3 separate regions of the Homo sapiens genome follow, and regions 2 and 3 are each linked to region 1. The links come from fine-mapping of genetic effects on gene expression. A gene starts in region 1. Each other region holds a variant in brackets. All regions are shown on one strand. Distances are from middle to middle.

Region 1 (2,500 bases):
GGGCGTGGTGGCTCACGCCTGTAATCCCAGCACTTTGGGAGGCCGAGGCGGGCAGATCACGAGGTCAGGAGATCGACACCATCCTGGCTAACACGGTGAAACCCCGTCTCTACTAAAAATACAAATAAAAATTAGCTGGGCGTGGTGGCGGGCGCCTGTAGTCCCAGCTACTCAGGAGGCCGAGGCAGGAGAATGGCGTGAACCCGGGAGGCGGAGCTTACAATGAGCCAGAGATGGCGCCACTGCACTCCAGCCTGGGCGACAGAGCGACACTCCGTCTCAAAACAAACAAACAAAACCAAACAAACAAAAAAATCAGATGCACAAGCAACCCACCAGGAACACTGAAAGCTGCCGAACTGCATTCAGTAAACATTCACAACCAGGTTATAATTTTCATTTTTAAAGACATGGCCATCTACCTCCCTCCAACAATTCTGTGTTCCCTTCCAAAAGGTTTCACTGATCCAGCATGAAGAGAGTGCATGTCTTTCCCCTTTGTACTCAGACCATGGGGGCCTATTCACAGCCTTAAAGGCTCCTTGTACCCCTTGATCCTGTCCCCATCATCCAAAGCATCTTGGAGACTGACATTTGTGAATACAGTTGCATATTCTAGGAAAGAGGCAAGTTCAAATGACACAGCCCCTGCCGTCTAAAAACGTACGAGGGAAAACAGAGTACTAGGCTAAGAATGCCCGCACCTTGCTTTGCTACTTGAGCGAGTCACTCAGCTGCTCTGGGCTTGAGGTCCCCTCCAAGGTCCCTGCTGGCCCTGACATTGTATGTTGCGACCCACCCCTGGTGCCGCTTCTCTTCCCACTAACTTTTTTTCCTAAATACCTCAACTGTACTTTTGTGTAAGTCCTCCAGCTGTCTTCACTTTAGTTTTGGCTCCTGGACAACTCTGCCCAAGGAAACATTTCCTCCTCTCCTCCTCTTCCTCCCAGACCAAAGCTCTAATTGTCTCTTCTGCTGCACCCTGGGTCTCCCAGGCAGGCCCCCGCCACTCAGACCACAGGTTCCAACACCTTCCAAGTCTCCAAGTTCCCAAGTCCAGTCTTTCCTCTGTTTTCTCCTCTTTTTCAGAAAACAGTGCTCTGACAGGCCCCAAATCTTCCAGTAAGTCATTACCGGCCCCCACTCCCTCTTTTGCAGCTACTGTGCCTTCCACACCCCTTTTTCTGGATTCCAAAGAGACGCAGGAGCAGGCCAGTGCTCTCCAGGCTGGAGGATCCCACAAGTTACTCTCCGACTCTGTCCCCTCCGTCCAGTTTGACCAGGGCTGCACTCCGCCCCCAACCTCCCTACAAGCCTCCTTGGCCTCGCGCCGCACCCACCTTTTGGGCCGCGGAGAAGCCCCCTCCCCAGCTCGCTCGCCGCATCGGAGAGCCCGCAGGGTTGTGGCAAGCGCGACTACGTGAGCGTCGGTGTGTCCGGGAGGCAGGGCCTGGGCTGGGTTCCCGGAGATGTCGGCGGTGGGAGGAAGACGACGAGGAGGAGGAGCCCGTTATCGCACCCGGGCGGGGCCGGCAAAGGGGCAACCCCGGCCGGAGCAAGCAGCGCGACACCAGCACCCCCGCGCGGCCGCCTGGCCTCCGCCAGCCCGGGACGGGGATCGTGCTAGGTCCCGTCGCCCTCGGTGGCCTGAGAGCCTACCAAGTGTATTTCCTCGCGTTTTATAGGGAAAATAAGGCCCGGAGAGAGACGAAGCGGCTTGTCCTTAAGCTCCAAACCCCACTACCCAACTTTGGAGAAGTCTCCAGACCTCTCGGGACCCGGGGCTGGGAACTTGTGCTAGTTTCGAAGCCAGAACAACAGGTGGTAAAGGGATCAGCCGCCGCAGCCGCAGCTCCCGGGTCACGGTCGCAGCCGGGCCCAGCAGCGCGGTGGAGCACGTGGGCCCGGGAGGCGCTTCCCAGCTGCGGTCCCTGGATCGCCCTCTCCACGCTGAAGCAACAGCTCCCTGGGGCCAGCTACCTAGAGTGTTCCAGCCCCGGTGTGCCAGTGCAAGTCGCACGGTGAAAATGTAGGTGACAGGAACCCAAAGAGGTCCCCGCTGCACGCCCTCGCCTTGTTGTCCCCAGCCCTTCCCTCGGACTCGAGACTTGGGGAGCTACGTACCGGGTTCAGCTCATAAGTCCCGAGGGCAGACGCGCCAGCCCGCGGCAGCATACGCCCTGGGGGAACAGGGACAGCTGCCGTGACGGCAGGAGCTGGGCCCGGGCTCGGGTTCGCGCCCCCCGCGGGCGGCGAAGTCCGTCCGTGCACGAGAGCTGCGCGGTCACCTCCTCCCTCCAGCAGTCACCCGGGACTCGAGCTCCCCGCGGCCGCGCTGCCCCCTTTAACTTTCCTGCCAGCTCTCGGGACCCCGGGGTCCATCCCAGGCCCCCTGCCACGTGAACGCCCCCCGCAGCCAATGGGCGCGCCCGGGACTCCAGCCGCCGACCAATGGGCGCGCAGCCACGGCGCTGGGGAGCACCGCTTCGCCACGTGATCG
Region 2 (2,847 bases), 74 kb before region 1:
CTGGACTCAAGTGATCCTCCCGTCTTGGGCTTCCAAAGTTGCTGGGGTTACAGGCGTGAGCCACTGCGCCCAGCCAGTACTTTATATTTATTGTGCCTGCATTTATATGGGAACTTCCTGTCATATTTCCTTTTTAAAAATTTCTAAATTCCTAAAACCTTAATTAATAGAGCACATCGTCCTCTTAGGTTGTGAGTCCTTCTAAGGGAAAAGCAGTATCTCCTGGTGTGGTCTGGTGTGGTCTTAATCTTCAGTGTCACAAGAGCAAGCCTGCCCCCACCAGCGCCACAGTGAGGTGACACAGAAGAGCGCCGGGCACCACGTGTTTACTTGCATTCCTCTGGTCCCGTGGAAGCCCATTATTCCTTTCCTGAATCGTATCTGAGCCAAAGGCCCTATATGGCCAAGATTCCCTGTTCGGTGATGAAATGCCAGCACATGACATTCTTTCTAATGAGTCACAGTCAATAAAAAATGTTTTCTAAATGAATCTGACTATGTCTCCACACCAAGCAACACAGAAGAAAAGTCTTATCAAACCAAAACATCTTATCAGCTGAGCCCAGACAGACCTTTCAGTTTTGCAAGCAAGGTGAAATGCGTTCCCACACAAAGCGAAAACCCAGTCTCTCCTTAGTTTTCCTTGGATACATGTGTTATATACTATGAGGAAATGAGGGAGACATGTATTGGGAAATATTTTCAGGGTTTGGAGACTGATGAGAGATTACCGAGGAGTTTGTGTACAATAATAAGAACACAGCTAAAGACATTCACTTTTGAGAGCCTCCATGTAAACATTAGGTTAATATCACATGCTGAACATGCCTTTTTTTTTTTTGCAATGCTTTATTTTCATTATGAACACGGTCTTTACATGGAATAGCACTGACCCTATTATTAGAAGTGGAAATCTATTAGCCATGCATTTTGTTGTTGTTGTTGCTTCTAAAGAGACTTACAGGGGGCTTAGGAAAGCCACAAAGAATCCCCACGGTGTGCACACATCAACCACAGACAGGTTAACCCTTCAGGCTCAGGGAAAATGAACATGAACTGAAGAAATAAAATGTAATGATCACCCAGAGGTTAACTATTAGGTTTACTATTACAGTGAAAGGGAAAAATAATCTTAAAAAATTTTTTATTTATTATTTTTTATAGAGACAAGGTCTTGCCATATGCCCAGGCTGGTTTTGAACTCTTGGGCTCAAGCCATCCTCCTGCCTCAGCCTCTCAAAGTGTTGCGATTACAGGGGTAAGTCACTGCACTTGGCTTTTTTTTGGAGACAGGGTCTCATTGTGTCACCCAGGCTGGAGTGCAGTGGCACAATCATGCAATCATGGCTCACTGCAGCCTCAATCTCCTGGGTCCAAGTGATCCTCCTGCCTCAGCCTCCCAAGTAGCTTGGGACTATGAGTGTATTCCTCCATGCCCAGCTAATTTTTGCTGCTGTTGTTGTTTTGTAGAGACGAGGGCTCACTTATTGCCC[A/C]AGCTGGTCTCAAACCCCTGGGCTCAAGTGGTCCTCCTACCTCGGCCTCCCAAAGTGTTGGGATTACAGGTGTGAGCCACTGTGCCCAGCCAGAAAAAAGAAAATCTGAAGGAAAAAATACAAGCAAGCCATGTATACACAGTTTTGTCCCCTAAAACTACGGTACAGAAGAGAGGGTATAAATTACAGGACTGGCATCCATAAAATTCCCTAAAGGAAAGATATACAACATCTAGGGTTCATCTGTAAGTCAAAGCAAACCCAAGTCAGAATGAGATGAAGGATTTAAATATGACCAAGGTGCCAACATGTAAATGATACCATAGACAAGTGAGAACTCATCTGGGCCTTGAACTTGACTTTCTCTCAAGTACTCCCAATAAAGTTACCCAGTAAGGAAAAGAGGTGGGTGGGGGATTAAGTTCTTATTGGCCCATCAAGAGTTTGTTTCTTTAAATTATCCATTGCCTTTGGTAATACCATGTGCTTCTCTTTCTGTGGGAGAAACTACATAATATCCAGAGAAGGGTAACTAGAATGGTGGAAAAGCCACTTCAGTGAGAAATGGCTGAAAAACTGGGCATATTTAACAAGAAGAGAAATCTGAATGAGGACAGGAGGGCTGCCAAGAATCTTTAGGGGGAAGCGGGGATGTGTGTTCTCCTGCAGTGCTGCAGAAGGCAGGGCTAGGACCACAGGAGAGCTGCCCCACCTTTGAAGGAGCTCTCTGGGGCAGAGTTGATGATTTAGAAGATAGAGATTTATTATAAGGCCACACCAGTGGAAGGTGAGGACATGGGAATAAAACCAAAGGTGAGGTAGAGATAGCTGTTAAAGAATGTGGACTTCACAGCTTTCGCTGCCTCCATGCTCTTCCCCTTCCAATGTACCTCATACGCATGCCAGTGTTACTTATCTGCTGGTCAGAATGTTTATTAGCTACCCATTACCTACTGAAGTATGCTGAAACTCCTTTTCCTGGTATTCAAAGCTTTCTGTGGTTTTACACTTCTTTTCCAGCCATATCATCAGATTAATAATTTTCTCATGTTCTCCAGTTCTTAAATGTGACATGCATTTCCCTGCCACATTCCTTCCCTGCTTAATTCCCTGCCTGTTGAAAACCTTCAGGGCCCACCAAAAATTCCACCTGTTTCATGAAACCTATGTAGAGGCAAAGGGAACTTTCCTTTTACCTTCTGAAGGTTCAATAATTTGAGTCCCTGGAAGAAACTGACAATAGACAGGTTAACAGGAGAAAAGGCATACAAATTTATCATGTGCCTATGTGCACAGGAGCCGCACAAACTGTGACTCAGAGGAGGACCAGCTGACTGACGCTTTTATACCCCAC
Region 3 (2,847 bases), 68 kb before region 1:
AGTGTGGAATCGTCACCAGTGTGGACCTTGGCCACTTCTTCATTTGCCCCTCCCCCAAGGCACCACTCTCTCGGCTCCTGCAGGAACAAGCATTTAGTGCAGATATCAGCTAAATGGGGGGTGGAGGGCAGCGGTGCAAAGAATGGGGCAGACAGCACAGCCCAGAATTGGCTACTACTTAAGATTTAATGCTATACTGAAATGTTCACTGACAAAATATGCTATCTGGATTTATTAGTCCAGTCTCACACTGCTATAAGGATACTACTTGAGACTGGGTAATTTATAAACAAAAAAGGTTTAATTGACTCACAGTTCCTCATGGCTGGGGAGGCCTCAGGAAACTTAACAATCATGGTGGAAGGTGAAGGGGAAGCAAGGCACGTCTTACATGGCAGCAGGTGAGAGAGAAAGCAGGGACAACTGTCATTTATAAAGACCATCAGATCTCTTGAGAACCCACTTACTATCATGAGAACAGCCTGAAGGAAACCACCCATGTGATCCAATCACCTCCCACCAGGACCCTCTGTTGACACATGGGGATTACAATTTGTGATGAGATTTGGGTGGGGACACAGAGCCAAACAATATCACTGGAGATTCTTTCAAGATAATTAATGGGAGAAAGGTGAGTGAGTGGGGCATTTTAGATGAAACAAGATTGGCTGTGCATTAATAATTGTTGAAGCTGCCAAGGGTGCATTGAGGTTCTTTATACTAGTCTGGTTACTTTTGTACATACTTGAAATTTCCCACAATAAATTATTATTTTTTTAAAGTGGATGCTGGAATCCCTCAGGCATTGCCAGCTCAGCCATTTTCTCTCCGGCCATCCTTCCCCTGATATGTTCCCTGGGATCCCTCTTCCCCTCTGCTACCCATTTCTTCACTCTCTTTCTTTCTATGGCTCTCAGAATTCTTGTCTTCCCTACCTAAAGGGAACACTTAAAACAACTCCCATTTCTTCCTTTCCTCTTCTTCTTCTTTTGTTTTTGTTTTTTTTTGGTTTTTGTTTGTTTGTTTGTTTGTTTGTTTTAAGGAGCAGGGAGTTTAATAGGCAAGAAAGAAGGGGGAAGAAAGAAAGAAGCTCCCCTGTACAGAGACAAAGGGAGGGGTGCTCCAAAGCCAAGAGAGGGAACCCCCACAACTCCCATTTCTTATGAAAAA[T/C]AAGCAATTTAATTATTCTATGTCTAGACTTCTCATTAGCCTGCACTGGAAGACCAAATAAACCCATTAATATTGTTTTTCTGAGCAAAAGTTGTTCTCTCTGTATGAAGAATTCTGCCTTCATCTTAGTCCATCTGGACCCTGCAGCCAACTTTTAAAGTCACTGTGTCCCCCCACCCCATTAGAACTCTTAATATTTGTTTAACCTCAGAGTAGAATGGAAAGCATGAATGGCAGATATTTCTTACGACTCCAGGAAGTGAAGTTTAGTCTCTTTCTAGAACCTTCCATCAGGTGAGGTCCACTATGAGCCTGGTTTAGAGGGGAAGGAGAATGGAGACCCTCACAATGTCCTAAGACTCTTGTTTTCTTTGTTTTTCTTGTTTTCCTCTTACTCCTTTTACCAGAACTTCTGGCAAGTAACATGTTGACTCATGGTGTTTTATCACTTCCTTCCTCTGGCTCACGTCCAGTAGACATGCTAATGAGTTGCCAAGTCACCAGTAGGCAGGAAAAGACAGAAGGGCTTCTCTGCCATGGAAACCTGATCATCTGGTGTTAATATTCTGAAAATGACATTCACAAAATGAGAGTTAAGCTGGATGAGAAGGTATCTCCTGCTTTCTGGCATGAAATCATTCTTCCTTTGTTTCCTTTGAAGTCCATATCTGTGTAAAAGATGCAACAGCAGGAATGATCTGTACTTCTTGGGGGTCTTAATCTCTGCTGTGTTGAAAGGATATTGAAAGAAATGGATGAGGACCTACATCTGGGCTCCTCATCTTAGAAAGTAGGCACCTGCTTGGGAACACTTAGGCAAATGGATTCTCTCCTTCCCCATTTCCCTTCAGGGGCCAGAAGGTCGGACAGAAAGTCCACCCTTGAACCTATCTAACGTCTAGGAGAAAGTCTTTCTAGAAACATAGAGAAAGTGAATGATGAGATGCCCGAAGAGTCATAATAGCAAGAGTCCGGTCTAGTCAGTTCAGGGTGAACTAAGACATGGAATGCATTGGAGAAAAGTGGGGATGATGGAATATCCTAAATTTTGTAAGTCATAAAAGTAGGGTTACCAGATAAAATATGGAATATCTACCTTAGTGTGAACTTCAGGTAAACAACAAATAAATTTTTAACATAGGCATTTCCTCAATATTGCATGGGACATAAGTATACTAAAAAAATGTATTTGCTATTTATCTGAAATTTAATTTTAACTGGGGCCCTGCATTTTTTATTTGCTGATAACCCTAGAAAAGCCCAGCCAAACAGAGCTTTTATCGCTCCATTGAATGTAACAAGTGGTCACTGTGCATTTGTCAGGGGGAAGCAAAGTCAATGACTGTGGCAATAATCCCTTATCTTGATCTACTTTCAGTGAAAAATATTACTTCTTTTATTCCTTTTGGAATGTTGCTAAAACAATGGCTGTGCTCTGACGGTAACTTCCATCCAAAGATCTCTTATTACATGGTATCTGCCCCCTAAAGAAAGCATACCGTAACAAGAGAAAGCATACCATCTAGGGGTCAAAAATTGATGTTTATCTCCATTCTTTTTCTTTCTGCTTTCGATGCCTTATAAACTTTTATCTCTTTATTAAGGAAAAATTTAAACATATACCAAAGAAGAGAGAACAGTGCGATGAACCACCTTGTACTCAGTATCCAGCCTTAG

Direction of the effects. Alleles are on the strand shown, and positions count from the first base shown. SD is a standard deviation of normalised expression in the study named. Not every link is listed here.
For the expression in thyroid of the gene that starts at base 1,436 in region 1, allele T in region 3 goes with a lower level than allele C (small effect, 0.24 SD a copy in GTEx).

The links. PIP is the estimated chance that this variant, and not a neighbour inherited with it, causes the effect. A credible set is the group of variants that fine-mapping cannot tell apart.
Region 2: its variant is the best candidate, but not a certain one, in a credible set for the expression of PPP1R3B in whole blood (INTERVAL, PIP 0.66).
Region 3: its variant is the best candidate, but not a certain one, in a credible set for the expression of PPP1R3B in thyroid (GTEx, PIP 0.80).

What each region holds. Positions count from the first base shown.
Region 1 is chr8:9,149,223-9,151,722 of GRCh38, forward strand. It overlaps PPP1R3B (protein phosphatase 1 regulatory subunit 3B), which reads right to left and starts at 1,436. Exons shown (of 2, transcript NM_024607.4): 1 at 1,341-1,436. RefSeq lists enhancers at 836-1,784, 1,831-2,070 and silencers at 1,421-1,690, 2,191-2,440.
Region 2 is chr8:9,074,660-9,077,506 of GRCh38, forward strand. It overlaps a transcript of ERI1 not described here. Among named protein-coding and RNA genes, the nearest start is that of SNORD3I, 17 kb to the left of the region's middle. The variant A/C (reference allele first, on the strand shown) is at 1,494.
Region 3 is chr8:9,080,693-9,083,539 of GRCh38, forward strand. It overlaps a transcript of ERI1 not described here. Among named protein-coding and RNA genes, the nearest start is that of SNORD3I, 23 kb to the left of the region's middle. The variant T/C (reference allele first, on the strand shown) is at 1,171.